Regions from separate parts of the Homo sapiens genome. Here region 1 is linked to region 2. The links come from fine-mapping of genetic effects on gene expression. A gene starts in region 2. The other region holds a variant in brackets. All regions are shown on one strand. Distances are between the middles of the regions.

Region 1 (8,457 bases), 32 kb before region 2:
ACTCCAGCTGGGCGACAGAGTGAGACTCCATCTCAAAAAAAATGAGATACTTCCAAAAAACAGCTCCATCTCAACACGAGGAGTTCTCAAATACGCACACAACCATACATGAGTTTGGCATGTTCTCCAAGAAACTCTCACCAGATGAGAGGAAGAGCGCGTGGGGATGCCGGGCGGGACTGCCCACTGCTTCACGACCATGTGAAATTACACACAAGGATGGTTCCAACAACTTTAGCTGGAAACCAGTCTCGTACATCACGGTTTCATTTTTTAACCTTTTTTTCTTAAATTTTTAGAGATGGCATCTCATTATTTTTCCCAAGCTGGACTCGAACTCCTGGGCTCAAGGAATCTCCTACCTCAGCCTCCCCAGTAGCTGGCATTACAGGGGTACACCACCATGCCTGGCTTAGTATGTGATGTTTTTATGTGTATTTAAAAAGACTCCTTAACTTCTTCTAAGTGACCTGTGTGTAGGTGTGCCTGTGTATGAACTCTGTCCAAAGTAATCAAAGAACACTCATTACAAACAAACTGCTGTAGCGCCGTGTAATGATAGTGGGTCCAGGTCACCAGCACACACCGATCCAATCTGCTGTGCCACTCCCATGCCTGTACTTGACCCCTAACTTCTAGCTCTCATTAACACATCTAACTTTGGCCAGGCATGGTGGCTCACGCATGTAATCCCAGCACTTCGGGAGGCCAAGGCAGGCAGATGACCTGAGGTCAGAAGTTCGAGACTAGCCTGGCCAACATGGTGAAACTCCGTCTCTACTAAAAACACAAACATTAGCCAGGTGTGGTGGTGGGTACCTGAAATCCCAGCTACTTGGGAGGCTGAGGCAAGAGAATCACTTGAACCTGGGAGGCGGAAGTTGCAGTAAGCTGAGACTGTGCCACTGCACTCCAGCCTGGGTGACAGAGCAAAACTCTGTCTCAGAGCGAGGGGTGAGGGCACATGTCTAACTTTAAAGGTTCCTCCTCCTTTCACCTTTCAAAATTTGCTGCTTGGCTGTGAATTTCAAAGACTAGCACAAAAATCTACCCGTTAGAAATATGATGTTAAAGTGGTTGAATCATGGTCCCCAAAAAAGATTAAATTAGAGTCCTAATCCCCAGTACCTGTGAATGTGACCTTACTGGGAACAGGCTCTTTATAGATTATCAAGTTAAGATGAAATCATTACAGTGGGCACTAAGCCAATATAAATGATGTCCTTATAAAAAGGGGGAACTTGTGGCTGGGCACAGTGGCTCATGCCTGTGATCAGTTACTTGGGAGGCTGAGGAAGGAAGACTGCTTGAGCCTAGCGGTTGGAGGCCAGCCTAAGCAACACAGTGAAATCTGTCTCTAAAACATTAAATCCAATGGACACAGAGACAGACACAAAGGAGATGATGTCAACATCGGATGGGCCATCCGTCTGCAAATGTAGGGAGAAGAACAGCTGGGGAAGGGCCTGGAGCAAGACGGGACACATCTCAGCCTCAGAAGCAACCAGCCCTGCAATACCTGGGTCTCACATGGCCAGCCTCCAGGACTGGGAGATGGTACATTTTGGTAGTTTAAGCCCCCGGTTTGTGGTACGGATCAAACTCAAGGCTGTCTTCAGGGTCTGTGCTCTGGCTTCTAGGGAAAGAGCCTACGAGACGCCCGGCCTGTGCTTCAGGGCTGCCACCTCCCTCTCTTGCTTCTTCAGTTCTATCTCCAAGGCAGCTGAGGTCGTCTGACCAAGGACAGTATCAAGGCACTAGAGGAAACCATTTTATTCTAGATACACTGTTTTAAGTCAGTCCCACTCGGGCAGCTCCTTGACACTTTATGGTGGTGCCGGCAGCGCCCCAGCTCTGGCCCGCTGTGCTCCTCCTCACTCAGCGGCTCCTCGCACTCCTCGCCGAGCTCCTCTACGTCCCCAGGGCTGGCCCCGTCCTCGCTGGATATGAGCCCCAGCTCCTCGCTGAAGGGCTCGCCCAGGCCCCAGTTACATCCTGTGCAGGCCTCGTCCTCACTAGACAGTGCCAGGTCCTTGCTGGATATCAACACATCCAAGGCCTCACTGTTCTCTTCACCAGGGCTGTCCTCTGTGGCCTCCTCCACCCTGGGCAGCTCTACTAACTCCTCACTAGGCTCCAAGTCCTCACCGGCCACTTCCTCAAACCCTGGGAGAGTAAAATGACTGACTACTATCATAATTTAATCACAGGTCAGAAAGTCAGGTTACTATCCTCAATGCACTCATTTTTCCTGCAAGAAGTCTGCTTTCCTTGGTTCTACATACCACAGGACTCCTCCTCTATTGCTACAGAGCATCATTCGTACCACAGTGATGCTTTACAAAGGAAAAACTTGCTGCACTGCTAAAATAAAAGGCCTCTCTGGAAACCTTAAAGGTTCGCTTTGGTTTTCCAAGAATATAAATAAAATGTGAAGTTAAACCCACAGGCTTTTCCCAGATGTAATGCCTGCTGTGACTAATGGGATCAAAAGGCACTATTATCAGGTACCCTTTCTTTCCTATCTCAGAACATCATTTCACTGAGCAATAGGGTCCTCTAATAATAAAATAAAGAGAGCATCCTAATTCAAATAAGTCCACTGCCTATTAATATTTTCCAATTAACATTTCGACAAGAGCTCATTTGCATGTGCTCCACATTCTGGAAATTTCGACAGTCACCTAGCCTCAGCAGTTTTGATTGTACCCCTCCAATTCAGAGGCAGCATTCCTTCCAGGCTGGTGTTAGAATCCGCCTCCGCGACCTCTCCTGGGAGGGCTTCTTCTGTAAAGGACGGGTTCCACACCGCAGGCCCCAGGCCCAAGTCTCCTTGGCCACAGTGTGACAGTGAGCACTGCCTGGTGCTCAGGCACAGACCTGCATACCATGTGTCCAACATCCGGCACCCCTTCACCCTTCCCCACCTATCATGAGGGAGGTCTGAAGTACAGCAGGGGTTCTGCATTCTGATAAATGTAAAGTGCAGCTCGGAAATATCTTACAGCACATTTTAAACTACTTTTTCGTCACGTGGAAAGTACACCAGGTCTAGTAAATATGATTTGTCAACAGCGGTCCCCAACCTTTTTGCCACCAGGGACTGGTTTCATGGAAGACAATTCTTCCACACAGTGGGTGATGGGTTGGGGTAGGGGGATGGTTTCAGATACTGGATTCTGATGAGGAATGCGCAACCTAGGTCCCTCGCGTGTGCAGTTCACAATAGGGTTTGTGCCCTTATGAGACTCCAATGCTGCCACTGAGCTGATAGGAGGTGGGGCTCAGGCAGTAATGCTTGCCTGCCTGCGCGCCGCTCACCTCCTGTTCCCAACAGGCCAGTTCGTAACAGGCCACAGACCAGGGTGTTGACCCCTGAACTACATCATGAATAAGCGGAAATCCCTCTGGCTCTGCATCCACACCCATCTACATTAAACATACCGTCAGCAGGCTGCTCAGTGACTACATACATATAGCAGCCATGGAGCAGCAGCTTCCCCAGTGTGTAAATCCTGAGAGCCTGAAAATGGAAGTCATCTAGAACACCTATAAGAACGGAATGAACAAGTATCACTGCCACACTAATCATGGGAAACACAGGGTACCTGGTCTTAAAATAGGTCTGCATGTAAAATGGAGCATTTAACAGTAAAGCGCTTCAGTAAGACTAGCACCTCTCTCCTTGGACTAGGGGTAAAAACTCACTTATTCACTCACATCTAATTAGATCTCTATACCTTCTTTACAAGTAATTGCTCTATGGCTTGGTGTATCAGATTATTTTCCCCAAGGAAAACAAAAATTAGCTACAATTCAGTCACTAAGGGACCCTTCCCCTTTGAATTAAAATAATAATCATAATGTTAAGAAAGGACCTGTTTAATCATAATGTTAAGAAAGGGCCCATTTAATAATAATGTTAAGAAGGTCCTGTTTAATAATCATGTTGAGAAACGGCCTGTTTAATAATAATGTTAAGAAGGGGCCCGTTTAATAATAATGTTAAGAAGGGGCCCATTTAATAATAACGTTAATGAAAGGCCGGTTTAATAATAATGTTAAGAAAGGGCCTGTTTAATAATAATGTGAAGAAAGGGCCTCTTTAATAATAATGTTAAGAAGGGGCCTGTTTAATAATAATGTTAAGAAGGGGCCCGTTTAATAATCTTAAGAAGGGTCCCATTTAATAATAATGTTAAGAAGGGGCCTGTTTAATAATAATGTTAAGAAGGGGCCCGTTTAATAATAACGTTATGAAAGACCTGTTTAATAATAATGTTAAGAAAGGGCCTCTTTAATAATAATGTTAAGAAGGGGCCTGTTTAATAATAATGTTAAGAAAGGGCCCGTTTAATAATCTTAAGAAGGGTCCCGTTTAATAATAATGTTAAGAAGGGGCCTGTTTAATAATAATGTTGAGAAGGGGCCTGTTTAATAATAATGTGAAGAAGGGGCCCGTTTAATAATAACGTTATGAAAGGCCTGTTTAATAATGATGTTAAGAAGGGGCTCGTTTAATAATAATGTTATGAAAGGCCTGTTTAATAATAATGTTAAGAAGGGGCCTGTTTAATAATAATGTGAAGAAGGGGCCCGTTTAATAATAACGTTATGAAAGGCCTGTTTAATAATAATGTTAAGAAGGGGCCTGTTTAATAATAATGTGAAGAAAGGGCCTCTTTAATAACAATGTTAAGAAGGGGCCTATTTAATAATAATGTTGAGAAACGGCCTGTTTAATAATAATGGTAAGAAAGCCCTGTTTAATCATAATGTTAAGCAGGGCCTGTTGAAGACGCCCGGTCTCAGACATCACGAGGACAGCCCGTTTCACCTCGTGTGCCCCAGAAGAGAAGCCATGGTGTTGGAAGAGCGGGCCTTCTTCCTCGCTTGGTCACCATGAGAATCACCGATCAGAACACAGGACTTCAACCC[A/G]AACACTGCCCTGTCCTGCAAAGCAACAAATGCAGTTTGCTGAAGGCTACAGCAAGATGCAAAGGTCATTTTTAAGACAGAGATCAATCCGTAAATTATTTTTCTTAGAGAAATATTTCTTGCCTGTGAGGGTTGATGAAGGACGGATGTAAACATGGTTCTTTCTTGAGCTCTGTTTCTGCTGATGGCAGCAGTGATTACAGCAAATGCACTTAAACGATGAGCACGCCAGTCTCCCGGTCCCCTAATCGGAAATCGCCTGCTCAGCTTCAGTTTCCCTGAAAATGCTTGAGGCCACTGACTGTCCTTCCTCCCTCAGAAAGGGGCTCTCTTCAAGCCAGCCAGCCCATAATAAGGTGTAAGAACAACCTCTTTGAATCCCCATTTGAGACACACTGAAGAACTGCACCATGCAAAAGGCCCAAGACCTACCAGATATGAGAGTGATTATGCTTCTTCGTGCCTGCGGCAGGCAGGAGCTCCACGTTTCTCCCCTGTATTATCTGTAGACACAACTACTCTTCTCTTTCCCTCCTCGAGTTGCAGGTGGTGTTCAGTTTCTTCACCCAAGCTCCAGGCAATGAAGGAGGTAAACATACAATGTGTTTCCCTTTCAATAAGTCAAAAGACAAAAACAACTACAGGAGTACATGTTTAATCCTGACCTCTCAGGTCACCCAGTGCACCACTCAGGAAGTCCCAGTGGTTGAGAAGACTCTAACAGGAGACAGCTAACAAAAGTGCCTGACCCAAACTGTGCCCAAGACATACACCAACGCCTAGGACCAGGCATCAGGACTGAGATGCCACTGATGAGAAATCCATTTTCCTACAATCAAACAGCAGCTATAACAGCACTGTCTCCCTTAACAAAACCATTCTCTCCTCAGCAAAGGCCTCCGCAGTCTTGCTCTAGAGGTGCCTTTCCGCAAACTCTCAACAACAGTCCTCACACACAATGTTTACGGATGAAAGGTCTTGCCAACAGTACTATGGTGCTTAATGATTTTACCAGGAATATGATGTGGCAAATTCACACACCAATTGGTTGTTCAATGGGAAACAACGTTTCCAAGACACTCGCACCCATGCCCTTACCACTGTCTCTTCTGAGGGCAAAAGCAAGTTAATTAAGGCCATACATAACAAAGAAAAAAATACATTAAACCCTTTATTATTTTAATTTTTCAAGCTGTAACTTAAATTTTCAAAGAGGAAGAAGAGAAAAGATTTTACAGCTACTGTGCTGTTTTATTTTTTTGAGACAGGGCCTTGCTCTGTCACCCAAGCTGGAGTGCAGTGGCCCAATCTCAACCTCCCAGGCTCAAGGAAATCCTCCCACCTCAGCCTCCCAAGTAGCTGGGACCACAGGCACACGCCACCACACTCAGCTAATTTTTAGTATTTTTTTTGTTGTTGTTGAGACAGGGTTTCACCATGTTGTTCAGGCTAGTCCAATGCTGCTTTAAACACAAAGTTTCGTGACAAAATACAATGTTAACTTTTTTTTTTTTGAGACAGGAGTTTCACTCTTGTTGCCCAGACAACAATGCAATGGCATGATCTCAGTTCACCGCAACCTCTGCCTCCCGGGTTCAAGTGATTCTCCTGCCTCAGCCTCCCAAGTAGCTGGGATTACAGGCATGCGCCACCATGCCCGGCTAATTTTGTATTTTAATAGAGACGTGGCTTCTCCATGTTGGTCAGGCTGGTCTTGAACTCCCAACCTCAGGTGATCTGCCCGCCTCAGGCTCCCAAAGTGCTGGGATTACAGGCATGAGCCACCGCGCCCAGCCTAAAATACAATGTTAATTCAACAGAAAGGCCATACTAAGTAAGCCCTCATTTGGGTCATGGACACACACCAAGTCAACCCACGTGATTAACTTACCAAAGAAGTCAAATGAAAATGGGTCCCTTCCACCAAAAAATTCCCTGAAGACATCATCTGGGTTACGGAATGTGAAGCCAAATTCAAATGGACTGTCAAAATGACTTCCACCTGCACAAATACAACACAGCTTTTAGTTTATGAATTTTGGTGCTTTGTAGGCAAAGAATTCTTTGTTGACAAAACATTATACAAATCATGAACTAATAAAAACAAAAATATTTCATAAACCTGAAGTTCTCTATAATTCAAAACATGAGCCCTGTACTGACAGAGAGTGAGTGTGCCCAGCGCTGATGGCATATGAGTGCAGCAGTGGCCCCTTCGACACTACTTTTCACCATCTCTAAATCCGTGATCGGCATATAACATGTAACATTACACACCATTTTTATGATTTGTTATGAAGGTTTATGAAGACCAAGAGTATCTGCATCCACTTCGACGACTGGCCTCCTGGAGCCACAGAAGCTGCCGCGTGGCCCCAGTGGGTTTGGAGCAATAATTTCCCAACACCCCTGGGGAGGCTGGTCACAGCCCAGTGACCGTGGGAACTTTTGGGGACAAAGTCCACGCCCTTCAAAGTCATTATTTTAGCTTTTCAGGAAAATCTGCTCTTTAAACCCTTAGGATATTTTGACATAACGTCAAGTGCTGATCTAAGGGTATATGTTCACAATATATTGCAGTATGGTTACAAATTGTTTCTATCTATAAAAAATACATCAACATATACTTCTAGTCTCGTAAAAGACTTTTAAATGCCATCAATTTCTCTGTCCTCTCCCCAATTTAGTTCGCTTTCTACGTTGCATCTCTATTTACTGATACAAAATCGACTCTGACCAAGAGACTCGTGATTTACAAACTCAACTTACTTGCCAAGACCTTTTGTCTTCAAAGAAAAAACTCACGTACTTACCTCCTCCTCCACCATTTAATCCTTCTTTGCCATATTTGTCATAGATGTCCCGTTTCTTAGCTAAAAATTGAAAGAAAAGTCGGTAAGGCCAAGTTCCTTTTAAACCCTTAATTCAATAGATAAGGTATTTCCCCAGTTGTAAATCAGTTTTCGATGTTTTACAACTGAATTTCAAGGAGTATGGCCACCTTTTCTTTAAAACAAAACAAAGCAACAGGGAAAACTTTCTGTACCTCTCTCCTGAAAAACAATTCAAAAAAAATTCAGTATGTTGAATTTTTACAAGTTATTAGAAATATTTAAGTATTTACGGCCAGGCATGGTGGCTCACACCTGTAATCCCACCACTTTGGGAGGCCAAGGTGGGCAGATCACCTGAGGTCAGGAGTTTGAGACCAGCCTGGCCAATATGGTGAAACCTCATCTCTTGTAAAAATACAATAATTAGCCAGGCGTGGTGGCAGGCACTTGTAATCCCAGCTACTCAGGAGGCTGAGGCAAGAGAATAGCTGGAACCCGGGAGGCGGAGTTTGTGGTGAGCCAAGATCGTGCCATTGCACTCCAGCCTGGGCAACAAGAGTAGGCGCGGGGGGGACTTAGCCACGCGAGGTAGCTCATACCTGTAATCCCAGCACTTTCAGAGGCCGAGAAGGGCCGATCACCTGAGGTCAGGAGTTCGAGAGCAGCCTGGCCAACACGGAGAAAC
Region 2 (8,457 bases):
CAAAGCAACACTCGGTTAAGTACTCAGTCTCCAGTGCTGCTGAAACTTATTTTTTCCAACTTTCTTGAATTCTGGATTCCATTATTAATCACAGGAAGGTCATCAGGACATACACAAACTAGAAAGAATCTAATTCAATCAATACTTTCTAAGCACTCTGTGTCCTGGACATTCCTATAAACACAAATAACTTCAGATTCAAAGCCCACCCAAGTGGTACATGCCATCTCAAGGTGGCAGAGAGGAATAAGTATTAGTACACAGTTCATAAGCATACCAACTAGAGCACACACGTATATATGCACAACACAAATATAAAACACACTTTTAATTTAAGCCTTTGGTGGCAAAAGGTAAGTAGAAAAATATCAAAGGGGGAAAAATCATATGTAGTGTAAACTAAATCACCCTTCCAAAGACACGTAATTTTGCAACACAGCTTAAGAATTCTAAAATATGGCCTGGCGCAGTGGCTCACACCTGTGATCCCACCACTTTGGGAGGCCGAGGCGGGTGGATCACGAGGTCAAGAGTTCAAGACCAGCCTGGCCAAGATGGTGAAACCCCCGTCTCTACTAAAAATACAAAAATCAGTCGGGAGCAGTGGCAGGTGCCTGTAATCACAGCTACTCGGGAGGCTGAGGCAGGAGAATCGCTTGAACCCGTGCGGCAGAGGTTGCAGTGAGCCGAGATGGCGCCACTGCATCCAGCCTGGGCAATATGAGATTCCATCTCAACAACAACAAAAAAATCTAAAATCTGGCCAGGCACCTGGCTCACACTTGTAATTCTAGCACTTTGACAGGCCGGGATGAAAGACTCACTTGAGGCCAGGAGTTCGAGACCAGCCTGGGCACACAGGGTGATTCCACCTGCGCGCGCGCACACACACACACACACACACACACACACACACAGCCAGGTGCGGTGGGTCACGCCTGTAATCCCAGCACTTTGGGAGGCGGAGGCAGGGGATCACCTGAGGTCAGGTGTTCGAGACCAGCCTGACCAACATGGTGAAACCGTCTCTACTAAAAATACAAAAATTAGCCAGGCGTGGTGACACGCGCCTGTCATCCCAGCTACCTGGCAGGCTGAAGCAGGAGAATGGCTTGAACCCAGGAGTGCAGTGAGCCAAGACCGCGCCACTGCACTCCAGCCTGGGACACAGAGCAAGGACTCCATCTCAAGTAAATCAGTCAGTCAACTAATCATCAATCAATATTCCTTCTCAAGTAGGATATCTCCAGGAACATGAAACAGGTCAACAGTGATTTATGTCCATACAAAAACATAAAGGGTTTTGTTTGACAAAACACCTCATTAATATCAATACAAAAAAAAAAATCACATTTTTACTAGTTGACTTTTCTGCAGGTAGGCGTTGTCGTTTTTCCATTCCTACATCATCGTTTCTAACATATTCTTGTTTTCACCAACTTTGCTCTTCTTCTCATTAACCTCATTTTTTTGAGTTTGATATTCTCAAATTCTATTCATCCTTGAACTACACCATTTGCTAAATCCTGCCACTGATCCTACTCTTACTCGCTAATGAGCCTGCAGTTACCCGCCTCTCACCACCAGGTGGGGTCCTGCACAAATTTAACCAAACCACATTTTGAACAGAATCATTTCTGAGGAAATGAAAAAGTTTTAAAAAGGTTTCCAAAAAACGCTGTTAATCCAGTGTGTAACCTCGATGCAAATAAATACTAAGAAGTAAAAATCCCGTCAAAACGTCAACTCACAAATACAAAGGCTAATTACATTCTCTTATTCCTCAACAGATATCTGTAAGCATTAACCAATATAGAAGCTGACCTTTACAGCAGACGACAGTAAGGTGTCTGTGCGGTCCCGCGGTGACACCCAGTCCACAGCGACACGTTCAGGATGACTAAAAATACCTGCCCAAGTTATGAAGTGCCCTCTTATAATACTCTTTAAAGTGACAGCCGGACGCGCGGGCTCACACCTGTAATCCAGCACTTTGCGAAGCCGAGGCGGGTGGATCACCTGAGGTCAGGAGTTCGAGACCAGCCTGAACAACATAGTGAAACCTCGTCTCTAATAAAAATAGAAAAAATTAGCTGGGCGTGGTGGCGCATGCCTGTAATCCCAGCTACTCGGGAGGCTGAGGCAGGAGAATCGCTTGAACCTGGGAGGCGAAGTTGCAGTGAGCCAAGATGGTGCCATTATACTCCAGCAGGGGCAAGAGCTAAACTCCATCTCACACACACACACACACACACACACACACACACACACACACACACAAAAGGCCGGGCGCGGTGGCTCATGCCTGTAATCCCAGCACTTTGGGAGGCCGAGGAGGCGGATCACGAGGTCAGGAGATCAAGACCATCCTGGCTAACACGGTGAAACCCCGTCTCTACTAAAAAAATACAAAAAAATTAGCCGGCTGTGGTGGCGGAAGCTTGAAGTCCCAGCTACTCGGGAGGCTGAGGCAGGAGAATGGTGTGACCCCGGGAGGTGGAGCTTGCAGTGAGCCGAGATCGCGCCACCGCATTAATTACGGCCTGGGCGACAGAGCAAGACTCCGTCTCAAAAAAAAAAAAAAAAAAAAAAAAAAAAAAGGTGCAAACAGACCATTCCACCCCCACCTCAGACCTGGATTTAGGTTATCTAGGTTGAAGACTGATGAGGGTGACGGGTACCACTGTCCAAAACAGAGTTAATAGAAGGGAATTACGGGCTTGCTTAAAAATGAAAGCTAATGTACGCCACTCAGTAACAGGTATCACACTGTAATACCATATGCATATTTTAGTCTTCACAACATTCAACACTCCCCACCTAGTGTTCCGGAAAAACTGTCCTACAGCCAGAATTACTTCCCAAACCTAACACTTTCATATCCAGAAGAAAATAAATTTTAAAACACTGTTTTGAAGAGAGTGCTGAACTCATCTCAAATTCTTTAAGAGCTCTGCCCTCTGGAATTCCCAACTTTCTCACCTTCCACAGCACAGATGAAGCCTGGACACTTTCCAAAAGCTTCCCAACCCCTTTGTTCTCCCACTTCCTGTCAAATCTCCACATCTACCAACTTAAGGCAACTTACTTCCCAAATTTCACAGCCTGCGTAATCCACAAAAACCCGCAGCTCGCTGAAGCGTGCATAAAAACTATTCATCCCTTTATCACGGAAGGCAGAAAGAAATGTGAAAGCACAAACTCCAAGGGAGCTTAAGGCCCTCAGGAGTGGAAACAAGTCTGGAGTCGGCGAGGCGCGGTGGCTCGCGCCTCTAATCCCAACACTTTGGGAGGCCGAGGCAGGCGATCACTTTAGGTCATAAGTTCGAGACCAGCCTGACCAACACGGTGAAACCCCCGTCTCTACTAAAAATACAAAAATTAGTCGGACATGGTGGCGAGCACCCGTAACCCCAGCTACTCAGGAGGCTGAGGCAGGAGACTCGCTTGAACCTGGGAGCTGGAAGTTGCAGTGAGTGGAGATCGCGCCACTGCACTCTGGCCTGGGCAACAGAACAGACTCCGTCTCAGGAAAAAAAAAAAAAGGAAGTCTGGAGTAAACCCAGAGAGAACGCGGGACGGGTGGACTGGCGGAGGAGTAAGGCGGCTGCATATAATTCCTTTCAGAAATCATGAATCGTTCTGATACGCAACACTATTTGGAAAAGTGCGGTTAAACACGAAGCAGCAGCAATCAAGCTTTAATGGTTAACGTCTGTTTCCTTTCTTCGGTCTTCACTCTAACTTTTCTACTAAATCAATAATTTGGCTTAAATTGTAGCGACAAATCCTTACTAAAATTCGCAACTCAATAAAAACGTTGAAAACTACAAAGAGCGCCGCTCAGCCTACTCTTCCCAAACAGGCTGAAGCCTCCGAGCTCGCAGGCGGCACCCCTTCGGTGGTGGCACGATCGTTCTACTTGCGCTGTTTCCTGCCCCGTTTACGTGAGAAGTTAGCACAGAAGTTTACGTCTGACTAGCAAACCCATCCTTTAAAAAATTCGCTAGTGCCAAAACCTTTCTCGAGCCAATATATGATTTGCAGTTTACACTGCGTGTGTCACTGACCTTCCTTAGGTAAGAGTTAATGTAAACTTCTTATATAAACTTCAGTTGCATCAACTACGGTGCAGATTCTTTAACGCAAAGCAAAGCAGACAAACATTCTGAGTGAGAAAGGCAGCCTGCTCTTCCACAAACTTCTGAACAATCCGTCCGGAGTTCTAGAAACAGGGCTTTGCGGTCCCCCACCTGCTTCTTCTCCCTCCGAACTTGGCGGCACGGCTGCGGCATTCCTGCTCCGCAAGCCACTCCCGTTTCTGGTTTCAGACGCGAGTGCGGGAGCCTTAGAAAAAGAAGGCGCTCCACGCCTCCCACGCTGCCGGCCCCGCCGAGCCCCAGCCGAGCCCCAGCCGGCCGCTCCCAGGCCGGGCCCCACCCCCAACCGCCGCCGCGGAGGCTGGGCCGCGTTCCGGCAAGGACGCCGGGCGGGGAGGACGCGGCCGGGCGGCCCCAGACCCCAGCCCCGGCCCCGGCCCCAGACCTGACCCAGAGGACCCCGCCCACCCTTCGCCCCGCAACCCCGGCCACGGCCCCCGCCCCGTCCAGTCCTTTCCCCGGCCGGCGACCCCGGTCACCCCCCGCGCTGTTGCCAGGCGCCGGGTGAGGTCCGCCGTCTGCCGGGCGCGCGCGGGGCCCTAGGCGACCTCCCCCGACCCTCGGAACAGACCCTCACCGAGGACAGAAGCGGCCGGTGGCGGGACGCAGGGGAGGCAGGGTGACGGCCCGAATCTCCTCACAGCTCCAGGACTGCTGCGCTGGTGGTGGCGGCGGCTCCTCGCGCTTTCCTTTCTCTCCTTTCTCCAACAACAAACAGGAAATGCGTCACGCGGCGGCGGCACGGCGGCGTCAACTTCCGCCCGACCCTGACGCCGCGCATGCGCAGTTTCCACTGCCCATACCGCGGGCCCAACCTCGGGGGCGCCCGCCCCACCTTCGCGAAGGTTCTCGGCTCTTCCGCCGCCCCGAAGAGCCCAGGAGACTGGGGGCGAGGGGGCGGGGAAGCCCAGGGCGAGGGGGCGGAGCTCGGGGCCGGGTCTACGGTACCGGGGAGCCCAGACGCGCGGAAGGCACAGAGAAGGCCGAGAAGATTCCAAATGGCACTTATTGTTGGGCCAGAAGGAGCCCATTCTGGAAACCGCGAAGTCGTCGCGCCCTTCATCTTCCTCTTGACCGGCGGCCCCCGGAGCGCGTCTGCCGCCTCTCGCTCCGCGGTCCTGCGGTGGAGCTGGGTGGCATCTCCGCACAGCGGGACGAAAGCTGGGGCGCGGGCGCGGGCGCGGGCGGAGAAGTCCCCGAAGGAGAAGAAGAACAAACCAAGCGGCGGCCAGCGAAGGCGGGCGAAGGCGCCGGCCCCCGCTTGTCAATTTAGGGAAGCCCGGATACCCTAAGTTCCCCGGCGAACGGGAGCGCGTGGAGACTTCGCCAGGGAATAGTGACTGAAGGAAACGGAAGCAAACTGTGGCAGAAAATACAGATGAAGCTTTTTAGGTTAAATCGTGGCAGTAGTTTTTCTGAAAACGCGGCGCATTTTGATAGCTGGACTTTAGGTCATCCCCAGGCTTCCTAGCCTTTCCCGCGTCCTCAGGGGTTCTGGTTCTAACCCTGGAGACCAACACCACATGCGTGTAGATGGTGACCAGCAGGAGCAGGGAGTCTCAGACCCAGTGCAGTCAGACAGGCTCCCATTCCCAGTAGCGAAAGGGTCCCGCAGACCCAAAGCCTAAGGAGCCAACAAGCAGTTCGTCCATGGAGCCTGGCCTGGATCTCCCACTGTCTTCCTCTCCAGCATTCAGCCAGATGTTTGCTACTGTGTTGTCTTAGTCCTGGCCCACCTTATCCTTTCCTTTAAGAAATAAAAATCTCAACTGGGTGCGGTGGCTCACGCCTGTAATCCCAACACTTTGGGAGGCCAAGGCGGGCGGATCACCTGAGGTTGGGAGTTCGAGACCAGCCTGACACATGGAGAAACCCCGTCTCTACTAAAAATGCAAAAAAAATTAGCCAGGTGTGGTGGTGCATGCCTGTAATCCCATCTACTGCAGAGGCTGAGGCAGAATAATCGCTTGAACCCAGGAGGAGGAGGTTGCAGTGAGCGGAGATCACACCATTGCACTCCAGCCTGGGCAACAAGAGCGAAACTCTGTCTCAAGAAAAAAGAAAAATCCCTTTTTGTTACACCTTTCCTGAACTTCAGATCCTGTGGCATGCTGACACTGAATTCCGGGGGCCTGCTCAGCCACCTTCTGAACTAACAACGCTTATGAATTCGTGATCGTTTAAGCCTGGGAGATATTCAAGTAAAAGGCACTTTAACACTTGAATCACTTTTGGTTTAAAATAGCTCGTTAGTAATGAAAGAGTTGGAGAAATGCCACCCTGAATTATGCCATATTAGGATACTGATTACTAACTAGTTCACTGATTACCACATTAGTATGCCCTCAAACTGAGGGCACATGGGGACCTGCCAATGCAGGGAGGGGCATTCTGTGAATCCCCCATTATTTACATAAAGACAGATCATCCCAAAGGGACTCAATTGTCTTGACCCCCTCCCTGGAAGTCTCATCCAGGGAAGAATGAGCCAGGATCACGGGAGAAGAGCTTCAAGGGACGTCAGCTGCACACCCAGACAGATTTTGCCACAGGCCACCACCTATTCTGAAGGCAAAAAATCATTTTCTCTCCCCTGAGCTGCCTGCATCTGCCTCCCCTCTCTTCTATGAAGGGGCTGTATAAGCTTCCAGATCTCACTGGATTCTGGGATGCCCTAGTACATGTTATAGATTTGTATACTTTTTCTCTTACGAATCTGTCTATTGTCAGCTTAGTTCAGAGACTCAGTTGTGAAACCTTCAGAGAGTACAGGGAAAATTTTCCGTCTACACCTGCCTCATTTTAGACAACTGGAACACTTGGTTAATGGCTGTAATTGTTATACTTCAAAATGAAATACTGCCCTTTTTTTTTTTTTTTTTTTTTTTTTTTTGAGACAGGGTCTTGCTCTGTCACCCAGGCTGGAGTGCAGTGGTTCAATCATGGCTCACTGCAGCCTTAACCTCCTGGGCTCAAGCAGTCCTCCTGCCTCAGCCTCCCAAAGTGCTGGGATTACCAGCATGAGCCGCTGTGCTGGGCTCATTTTTTGTGTTTCTTAAACTTTAATTGTATTACTGCATGTCATTTCTAGCAAATGATCAGTTAGCAAAGGAAAATCTGACTGGATTCTCTATTCTTATTTGAGACTGAGTCTCTCTGTCTGTCCTCCAGGCTGGAGTGCAGTGGCACAATCTAGGGTCACTGCAACCTCCACCTCCCAGGTTTAAGTGATTCTCTTGTCTCAGCTTCCTGAGTAGCTGGAATTACAGGCATGAGCAACCATGCATGCCTAATTTTTTGTATTTTTAGTTGAGATGCGGTTTCACAATGTTGGCCAGGCTGGTCTCAAACTCCTGACCTTAGGTGATCCACCCACCTCAGCCTCCCAAAGTGCTGGGATTACAGGCATGAGCCACCAAGCCCAGCCTCTATTCTCTTTTTTTACTGGTTATATAAATGACTGTTCAAAAGGAAGAAATAATAGTTTGTGTTAGTATGGGCATCTCATAATAAAACCTAAAATAATCTCAGCAAAGACTGGAATTTCAGATATGTGCACAGCTTGGCACTGTCACATGTAACCTATCTGCTTGCAGATTGATGGAGGTTTAGTTCCATCTCAGTGTGGACAGACAGTACTATCATGGGACATTTTACATGTCAATACGTCCCTACAGTGATTGTGAGCTCATCTTGAAATGTAAGCAGCACAGACATGAATTTTACATTGTAAGTGGTAGGCTAGCCACAAATAGCTTTTCCCCCTTCGAAAAAGAAAATATATGTGTGTGTATGTGTGTGTGTGTATATATATATACACACACACACACACATTAAAACGCGTATCAGGCTGGTCACAGTGGTGCACACCTGTAATCCCAGCACTTTGGGAAGCTGAGGCAGGAGGATTGCTTGAACCTAGGAATTCCAGACCAGCCTAGGTAACACCGCAAGACCCCATTTCTACCAAAAATAAATTATTTTTTTCTGGCACTTTGGGAGGCCGAGGCGAGAAGATTGCTTGAGCTCAAGAGTTCGACAGCAGCCTGGGCAACTTGGTGAAACCCCATCTGTACAAAATATAGCAAAATTAGCCAAGTGCGGTGGCACACACCTATAGTCCCAACCACTCAGGCGGCTGAGGTGGGAGAATCACCTCAGCCCAGGGAGGTCCAGGCTTCAGTAGAGCACCACTGTACTCCAGTCTAGGCAACACAGACCCTGTCTCAAAAATAAATACATAGAAAATTATGACCAGGCACAGTGGCTCACGCCTATAATCCCAGCTCTTTGGGAG

Direction of the effects. Alleles are on the strand shown, and positions count from the first base shown. SD is a standard deviation of normalised expression in the study named.
In carriers of allele G in region 1, the expression in subcutaneous fat of the gene that starts at base 4,878 in region 2 tends to be higher than with A alone (small effect, 0.21 SD a copy in GTEx).

What was found.
Region 1: its variant is fine-mapped to the expression of DNAJB6 in subcutaneous fat (GTEx, PIP 0.96). The same link has a PIP of 0.9 or more in gastroesophageal junction.

The regions. Positions count from the first base shown.
Region 1 is chr7:157,365,856-157,374,312 of GRCh38, reverse strand. It overlaps DNAJB6 (DnaJ heat shock protein family (Hsp40) member B6), which reads right to left. Exons shown (of 10, transcript NM_058246.4): 4 at 7,752-7,811; 5 at 6,830-6,940. Among named protein-coding and RNA genes, the nearest start is that of DNAJB6, 33 kb to the right of the region's middle. RefSeq lists a silencer at 688-886. The variant A/G (reference allele first, on the strand shown) is at 4,939.
Region 2 is chr7:157,333,425-157,341,881 of GRCh38, reverse strand. It overlaps DNAJB6 (DnaJ heat shock protein family (Hsp40) member B6), which reads right to left and starts at 4,878. Exons shown (of 10, transcript NM_058246.4): 1 at 4,738-4,878. RefSeq lists enhancers at 823-1,343, 3,646-3,695, 4,424-4,927, 4,928-5,430, 7,700-7,779 and silencers at 4,356-4,545, 4,606-4,815, 5,006-5,165.